2 linked regions of the Homo sapiens genome follow. The protein of the gene in region 1 purifies or fractionates together with the protein of each later gene. This does not show direct contact. Each region holds a gene or a part of one and is shown on either strand. Other genes may lie near its edges.

The links. Proteins that work in one complex are often made in the same cells at the same time.
Region 2: the proteins of TPPP3 (region 1) and ARFGAP3 fractionate together in Homo sapiens (co-fractionation; one large-scale study listed by BioGRID). This does not show direct contact.

Annotation. Positions count from the first base shown.
Region 1 is NC_000016.10:67,390,600-67,394,675, reverse strand, and holds the start of TPPP3 (tubulin polymerization-promoting protein family member 3), read left to right. Parts: upstream 1-1,177; 5' UTR 1,178-1,296; intron 1,297-1,638; exon of another isoform or gene 1,639-1,729; intron 1,730-3,303; exon of another isoform or gene 3,304-3,480; intron 3,481-3,558; 5' UTR 3,559-3,564; coding exon 3,565-3,752; intron 3,753-4,043; coding exon 4,044-4,076. Other genes in the region: palmitoyltransferase ZDHHC1, read left to right, coding at 1-10. UniProt on the Homo sapiens protein: Regulator of microtubule dynamic that has microtubule bundling activity. Required for embryo implantation; possibly by regulating beta-catenin. Also required for decidualization via regulation of beta-catenin.
Region 2 is NC_000022.11:42,811,393-42,816,364, reverse strand, and holds part of ARFGAP3 (ADP-ribosylation factor GTPase-activating protein 3), read left to right. Parts: intron 1-4,972.

The DNA.
Region 1 (4,076 bases):
GTTTTCGTGAGCCCGAGCAGCGGCGAGCCCAGGGCGCCGGGCGGCCGGGAGGCTGGTCTGGCTTAGCTGGGCCGAGAGGCCGGAGGGCCGAGTTAGAGCGGCCGGCCTGACTCTCTATGCAACACCCCATCCTTGCCGCACCGAGTGCACTTTAGGGGCCCCTACGGCCGGCGGGATCGGCCTCCCTCCCCCACGACTCAGCAATACCCGCCCCACCGGCTGTGATGCTCCAATAAACTTTTTTATGCTTTTGCGGACGTCGCGCTTACTTTCTTAATGGCAGGGGCCACGGGCCATCCAGAAGCCCGACCCTGGCCAGTGGACCGGGGGCGGGGAGGAGGTCCCTGTATAGTAGGTAGCCACCCAGGCTGCCCTGTGGAGGTGCTCACGTGCGGCTCGTGGTTAGGAAAGGCCTTAGAAGGCGGCCTGGAGGAGGTTATTTTTCTTAAAGATGGGCTTTGCACTGGGAGGCCGAGAGAAAGCAGGCTTTGGGCTCCGAAAGCAGCAGTGGGCGCTGAGGCTGCGAGGCCGTGGGGAGGTGGCGGCGAAAGGAGGGGGCCGAGCCAGGAGGTCCCGCAGCTTTTCCCCGGCAGCAGGGCTGCCGTCGAATGCCAGCATCCTGGGGCTGGGCGAGCGCGATTCGCTCGTAGGGAGTCCCCTCCCTTCTTCCCCACTGCTCCAGGCTCTGAATCCTACCCAAGAGAGCACGGGAGTTGTGGCCTGGGGGTGCCATCCGTTCAGTGGATGGCAGTGCTCTTGAGTCAACCGTATACCCCTGTCACTGAGGGAGAGCTCCTTCCCGATTCCCCAAGCCCCACCAATGCCCCGCGCAGCTCCCCAGTGGCCTCTGGTTGACTCTCTGGGGAGCTGGATCTCTTCTGGAGATTGGGGCCGCTTAGAGCTTTAGGCACATCCCAGGATGGGAGGCTGTTTCCTCAGGGGGCCGTCCGAAGACGCCCCGAACTGCAGAGCGCTGGTCTCGCCGTCGCGAGGACCGCGGAGTTGCGGGGGAGGGGCGGGATGCGGCTCCCGGAGAGTCTCGGGGAGGGCGGGGCCTCGTGGGCGGGGCCGGCGTGACCTTGGTCACTCTCCCGCCGAGACAGCCTCGGGGGTGGGACTCGCCGTCTCTATGGAGACCGAGAAACAGGGGATAATACGGCGGAGCCGCCTGGGCTGCAGTCCCACCCGGGAGCCGGCAGGGAGCGGAGCTGCGGAGCCGCCTGGTCTCCCGCGTCCATCGGTCCATTCCTGCGTCGTTCTGTCCTTCCGAACGCACACTTCAGGAGCAGCCGCGAGGTAGAAGCCCATAGGAGACCCAGATGCCCGCCACCCCAATCAGTATCCTGCACGATGAGGGTTGGGGGGAGCAGCCTGGAAAGGGTCCCAACCTCCGGCGGTCCCAGCCGAGGAGCCAGCTGAGCGGCCCTGCCCTGGCCCCAAGCATTCCACCTCGCAGCCCCCACCTCCTGGTCCGGCTGATTGATGACTCCAGCTGTCCCAGTGGGAGCGGGACGGGTGGCTCCAGTTCACGGGTGTGGCCACTCCATCCATGGCCTGCAGACCCATGGGGCTGCGGCCTGCAACCCAGCGCCACCTGACCGCGCTGAGATGACCAAGAATCCATCTTTCCACGGACAGGAGTGAGCACTGCACGCAGGATCCGCCCAGTGCTTGGGCCAAGCACCCTGTGGCATCCAAGCTCCCCTGGACGTTACCCTTGGTGAACCAAGTGCGGGTCTTGGGGTCCCTGGTGGGAGGTTGCACCCAGGGAAAGGGAAGGGGAGTGCAGCGTGGACTGGGGTTATGGTCCCTGTAACGTAGGAACCACCGGTGCTCACAGTCCCAGAAACTGCCACTTAGGGATGGGAGTGTGGTCACTGGCGAGGAGTTTTTGGTGGAAGATGGGGCAGCCGGGCAGAGCCCAGGCCGTGGTCACTGGAAGCCCTAGTGTAAAAGGCAGAGCTAGAAGATGGTTGCTGAGACCGAGGGTGTGGTCAGGAGGTGGCAGTGGAGGAGGGGGATGTGGTGGGGAGGTCTCTACGCAGGGGATCTCCGCATAGTACCTGGGAGTCTTATAATGTTAGTGTGTGGATGTGGACTGGGGCCTTCAGTGCAGGCTGAGGGTGTGGCCAGAGGGCTGAGGGTGTGTGGACAAAGGGGTGCTGAGGGTCAGGGCGCCTTGATAAAGGGCTGCGGGTATTGGAGGGGGTGAGTGGCTGAGGCTATGGTCAGGGGTCTCAGGAAGGGATGCAGGTTTGTGGCCAGGGGCCTCAGCCCCAGGGCTGCGGGTGTGGGGATGGAGAAGGCTGCTGTGTAGGCTCAGGGTGTGGCCAGGGGTCTGCAGCGGAGGGCTGTGGGTGTGGGGGGCACTTTAGTGCTGGACTGTGGGTATTACTGGGGTTGGCGCAGGCTTGTTAGTATATATGTGGGGGCTGGTGGCCGAGGGCTGTGGCTGTGGGTGTGAAGATGGAGGATGGAGGGCTGAAGGTATGGCCAGGGGTACAAGGCCCAGGGGGTGGCAGGCCAGGGCTGAGTGCACAGGGTCGCTGGGAATGTGGGCTGGTGTGGCCAAGTTCAGGGCGTGGCCAGGGGAGGTCTGAGGTGTAGACATGATGAAGTGTGTTTCAGCCACAGCCCCACTTGCCAGCACGACTCTTGGGGTTCGTAACTCTACAGCCCCCACGCTACTAGCCCCCAACCTCCTGCTCCCCCAAAACTCCACAGTGGGAGGTTACAGCACCAGTCGGTGGCAAGGGGCCAGGAAGCCACGGTTATGCCCTAGGCGCAGGGAGTGCTGGCGTGCCCCACCCGTGGGCCCCAGCTTCCCAGCCCAGCCCAGCCCCTCAGCACTGGGAGCTTCTCCCTGAGCTGCCCTGACACCATCCTGCCCTTAGCAACATTCTCCAAGCAGCACCACCCTCCCTTAGCAACCGTCTCCAGGCTTCACAAACTGTGGCCAGGCCAGCCCCAAGCTCCCCTCATGTTTTTGTTTAACAGCAAATAGTAACAAGGCCTTGCTGGACCAGCTGCACCCCTGCCCAGGGCATGCACCCGTGCCCAGACTGGCTCTTGCTGGGTCCTCATGACCCTTACAGAGATGCTGTCCTCACTGAATGCCTGCCCGACCAGCAGCCTGGCCTGGCCCCAAGCCAGCTTGGCATGGAGCTTCCAGGGAGGGGGCCTGCTCTGCCACCCTCACTTCCACCCAAGCAAGGCCTTGTGCCAGGGCCAGACAAAGCCAGGGCCCCAGCTGCTGCCCTAACAGTCTTTCTGGACAGTGCCACTCTGTTCCCTGTGGGCATCATTATTTCATCTGCTGAACCCTGCTGAGAGCCAGGGCTGGCATTAGTGACAAGACCGTGCCTCCCGGGGCTCTTCCTTGGGGCTCTGTGGCCCAGGGCGACAGTGACGGGCCCCTCTCCCCAGGCAGCTCCAGCACCAACTCTGTAGCAGAACCTGCCCAGGTCTTGCAGGTTTGAGGTAGAGGCTGGGATGTTCTGGGCTTGGGGGAGGGGAAGGGCAGATTGGCTGGGAGATGACCCAGGTGGGTCTCTATAGGGTGGCATGGCAGCGAGCACAGACATGGCTGGGCTGGAGGAGAGCTTCCGCAAGTTTGCCATCCATGGTGACCCCAAGGCCAGTGGGCAAGAGATGAATGGCAAGAACTGGGCCAAGCTGTGCAAGGACTGCAAGGTGGCTGACGGAAAGTCCGTGACAGGGACCGATGTGGACATCGTCTTCTCCAAAGTCAAGTGAGCCCTAAGCAGCCCCTGCTTCTCATGTTCCCAGGAGGTGGGGAACTGGGGGGCTGGAACCAGGGAGGACATCAAGAAGGGGTCAGGGAAACACCATGATCACGAAGGTCGTTCTTCCAGGGCAAACCTTATATCTATTGCCCTCCAGAGTTGCTGACCCCTGCGACTTCCCCAAACGTGGGAAAGAAACGCAATTGCATAATTTGTGGTGGCAGCAAATGTGTTTGAGCTTTCCCCTGGGGGAGAAAAAAGAAAGGGGAACCCTCATGGTGCCCACATGCCTGTCAGGGGGAAGTCTGCTCGGGTCATCAACTATGAGGA
Region 2 (4,972 bases), on another chromosome or scaffold:
TTCACTTACTTGTCACCTAGGCCAAGTTATTTAACTTCTTTGTGCTATAGCTTCCTCATCTGTAAATTAGGGACCCTAGTAATACCTACCCAATAGGGTTGTGTGAGGATCGAATGAGATACTGCGAATGCTATAGCACGTTTAGAATGGTGCTTGGCTCTTACTATGTTTAGCTGCTATATGATAATATAGAAACTCAGTTTAAGAGATGTGATTCAGTCTAAATGTTTTTTGTTTGTTTGTTTGTTTATGAGATAGAGTCTCACTCTGTCACCCAGGCTGGAGTACAGTAGCATGATCTCGGCTCACTGCAACCTCCACCTCCCAGGTTCAAGCAATTCTTATGCCTCAGCCTCCTGAGTAGCTGGGACTACAGGCGTGTGCCACCATACCCGGCTAATTTTTTGTATTTTTAATAGAGATGGAGTTTCGCCATGTTGGCCAGGCTGGTCTCAAACCCCTGACTTCAAGTGATCTGCTGGCCTCAGCCTCCCAAAGTGCTGAGATTACAGGCATGAGCCTCCACGCCCAGCCTAAATGTTTGATTACTATTGTTAGGTAGTTAAACTAACCACATTGAGGACCACCTTTGGGTTAGCAGTTCATGAAAACTGAAGGTGTTCCTGTCGGAAATGGGCGGTGCTTACTGGAAGGCTCCATCACTTATGTCTCTGAGGGCATTAGAGTTGTCTGGCAATTTATAGGTTTGAAGCGTTTTCATATGTATAAAAGATATATATGTGTGTGTGTATATATACACACCCACACACATGCACTTCATATATAGAACAGATATAAATATATTACCTAGGATCTAATTGTGAAATTGTATATTTTCCTATCAATGTTTATAGACAAGGAATTGTATAAAGAATACTATCCTTAAAAATGTCTCTAAGTATAGCTCTAAATTATTTCAAGTCCAGGGATTTTACCAAAAAAAAAAAAAAAAGTAGTAGTTTAGTGGTGTTCCATGGTGGTATTTTCAGAGACTTGGGTGGTTTTATATTTTTGCCTATCCTTTGCAGCCTGTATAATGCACCAAGTTTCACTTTACTCAGAAGTGATACCCAAATCATGCCTTTTAAAGGTATGTAAATAGATTTTACACAGAGTAAAATTAAATGTGTAATTTGATTTGGAAACTACATACGTGTCAGATCATTTCAGATGTGAATATTAAATGGTGGACTAAGTCTGGGTCAGAGGAAACTCTTGGCAGTACGGGTCTGTATTAGCCTGTGTGGCTTCTCACAACATCTTTGATTATTTCACTGCTTATTAGCAACTTCTGCAGATGATAGTGTAGGAAGGTAAAGAAAGTTTAGGCTGGGCATGGTGGCTCACACTTATAATCCCAGCACTTTGGGAAGCCAAGGCAGGAGGATCACTCGAGCCCAGGAATTCAGGACCAGACTGGGAAATATAGTGAGACCTCATCTTTACAAAAAATTTCAAAAATATTAGCCTAGCATGGTGGACATGCCTGTAGTCCCAGCTGCTTGGGAGGCTGAGGTGGAGGATCACTTGAGCCTGGGAGGCAGAGGTTACAGTGAGATTAGATTGCACCACTGCACTCCAGCCTGGGCAACAGAGCAAGACCCTCTCTCAAAAAAAAGAGAAAGTTTCAGTTAAATCAGTACTGTTGCTTGGTAGCCGGGTTGGTAAGAAAGCTCTAAGTGAGGTTGCCTAATGGGAACTTCAGAGACCCTCACTGGCTCCAGGTCACTGACAGGCCCCTGTGGGGCCTTTCTGCCTTGTAAAGGCTTCAGGGATCTTTCAGACTTCCCCTTCTTCAAAGGCTTAATCAAAAGAGTTAGACCCAGAAGCCACTGTTGCTATGAAACTGTTACTTATGGTTTGAAACCTGGGAGCAGATGGCATATTTATATAGACCACACCTCCTGGACTCTTTCCAGAGAGACCTTGGTGTATTGTTTATCACGACCTGCAGATTGTCTAATAGGAACATAAATGCCTTCTCTAGTCCTCCTTGGCATGGTGACCACCACTAGTAGAATGAGGATACTATTAGGTACTTTGGCAACTGAGGTAAAATAAACATGGACTCTGAAAGCAAATATATTAGTTCGATGAAGAGCTCTTATTGCTTTCAAATTATTCATTAGCCCATTAGAACTTGAACATTATGAATTATGAAAGAGTTCTGTTTCTGTTAAAAATAAGATAAAACCTGTCCTTGTTTTTTTTTATTATTGAGTTCCATTATTTCTAGGATATAAACAGTATAATTATATATTGAGTACAAGATAATGAAACTAGAACAATTTGCTCAGCCTTATAAAGCCAGCATGGCCTTAATTAGAATAGACAACTGTCTATAGCTCTAAATCAGAGCAAATGTGATATTAGGGTGCTCTTATCAAGGGATTTTAAGGAATGTTTTCAAGATTGGGTAAAGACAGAGTGGGAGGGGAAAAATAAAAGTAAAAAAGCATTGAGAGCTATACAATCAAAACATTAGAAAGCCAATAAAGGTTTGGAGATGAGGAAGGAAAGTCTGTGTGTTTCTGAGCAGGGACTAGTGGCCGTTAGTCGTCCCACTCACCCCATCCTTCCAAAGGTCAGCTGGAGTCCTGGCTGGTGGTCTGTCGGTCCTCTTAGTGAGTTGCCAGTCCTCCTACTGAGTTGCTCCTGCTTAGCATGAGCACAGAGAGCCTCTCGTGGATGACTGGAAGACAGAGAAGCCGCCAGCCAGCCCACGCATGGACTGCTGCCTCACAGGCTCATGCTGGTCAGGGGGACCCAAGCCGATGGCTGTCTCTCTTCTTTGACTTCTGAATAGTTCAGTCACTTAAAAGTAATCTGATTCCTCTACATTTCAGGATAAGTACATTGGCTTATAAGAATGAAGAATGTTATTTCCTTAGAGTGTTGCTAAATCTACAAAATTTAGTATCACAGAGTCATGAAGAACCTGGAAGTTCCACCCCACCCTCACCCTGCACCAGTCCAGTGCTGACCCCCCTCTTCCCACTCCAGGGCAGTCCAGCCTCTACTACACCCTTCCTTCTCCTCAAGGCAGCCATTTGGTCCCAGGTCAGCTCCGTGAGAAACTCTGCCTTTCATTAATGCAGCTTCTGAGGCTTCTGCATTCAAGTCAGCCTCCCTTCCATAAGTCAGTTCCCAAGCCTCATGAGGGCAGGAGCTGAATGTGTCTTCTTGCCCTTTGTCTTCCCCTAGCAGAGTGCCTGACTCCTCGTAGGTGCTTATTAAGTAGTTTTAAAATTCCTCACTGAATTGATCTTAGTTCTTTCATGGTGCCTTAAAATAAGTCCCTCAAACATGTGAATATCACCTTGCAGGCCAGCACACATCCCACATCTTTTGAACCTTCCTCCGATGTAACTTCCGGTTCCTTCAGTGTCCTGATCTCTCTTCTCTGAAAGGGGATCGGTCATCTCTCTTCCTCCAGGCAGAGCCTGGGTGCAGTACAGATCCACTCATCCGCCATAGGGAGAGCCTGGTCGGTTTCTAGCTGAAATCCAGATACACTTTGAACACCACGTTTTCCTTCCTAAGGAGTAGATGCTAGTGTCATGAGATTTGTTCTTAATGACCTTCTTGCCAGAGAAGGCAGAAGCCACATTTAGAAATTCTACTTTCTGTCTATTAAGGATGTAATATCATACCATCTGCTCCAACAGCAGTTTATCCTCTGTCCCTTTTTTGTTTCGTTTTGTTTTCTGCCAAGAAAGAGTAAATGTGTTCTTAGCATTTCCCCCACCCAGATCTTAGCTCACCGAGGTCCCTGGCCTCTTTGCTCTTATGGGTTCTTGCTTCCCTCTTATATTGGCCTTTGGTTACTGGCCCCTCTGACCTCCTATGATCTGCATCTTCTGTGCAACTCCTTATAGCACGGAGCTTGGTGCTCATCTTATTTCCAGTGTGCTTCCTGTCCTTACTCTCTGGAGAAAACCTGGATGATGTCTGTTAAGGCCTCTGCATTCTCTTCTGTCACCCTTCCTTTCCTAAGACCTCCCTGGGATCTGCCTCTCTCCTCTGAACTTCTTGGACTGCCTTAATGAGGTGTGTATATCTGGCCAGACTGCTTTTCCATCCTAAGCTATCGTGAATTCTGGCATGGCACAGTCCCTTTTTTTTTTTTTTTTTTTTTTTGAGACAGTATCCCACTCTGTCACCCAGGCTGGAGTGTAGTGGCATGATCATGGCTCACTGCAGTCTCGGCCTCCCAGGCTTAGGTGAGCCTCCCAAGTAGCTGGGACTATAGGCGTGCCACCATGCCCCATTAATTTTTTCTTTTAATCCCCGGAGATGGTCAGGAAACGGTTATTTTATTTGTTTATTTATTTTTTATTTTGCATTTTTTGTAGAGATGGGGCTTTGCCATGTTGCCCAGGCTGGTCTGGAACTCCCAGGCTCAAGCAATCCACCTGCCTTGGCCTCCCAAAGTGCTGGGATTACAGGTGTGAGCCACCGTGCCTGGCTGGTTGATGGTCACTTTTTCTCAAGGTTTTGGCACATCCACCTCGCCTGTCAGTCTCTCCTGTTCCAGGCAGACCTTGCTGCTCTTGGTCAAAGATTTTTCTCTAATCACACAGGACCAAAAGCCAACACTGAGTGCTGCTCTCTGAGCAATGCCCTGCTCAGTGACAATTGGCTAATTAAAGTGTAAACTGATCTGAAGGCCAGGCTCTCCTGGGATGCTTGCAAATCAGATCAAGTTTACTGCAGGCTCCAGGCTGAAAGACTATCCCCAGAATGGTCCAGTGATCATGATCCATAGCTTTGTATCCAACTCCAGGAGGAGGTTAATGAGCATCATTTACATCATTTTCATTGAATGTGCTTAACACGGAAGGGATTGCCAACAAGAAGCTCCTTGTATGGAGTCAGTTCTCTAGGCCCAGCAGTGTTATTTGTGATTGCCTAACCAGGCGGAATGAGACCTAAAGACAGTGAAATGTGTAACCTGTGGTAGATAACATTT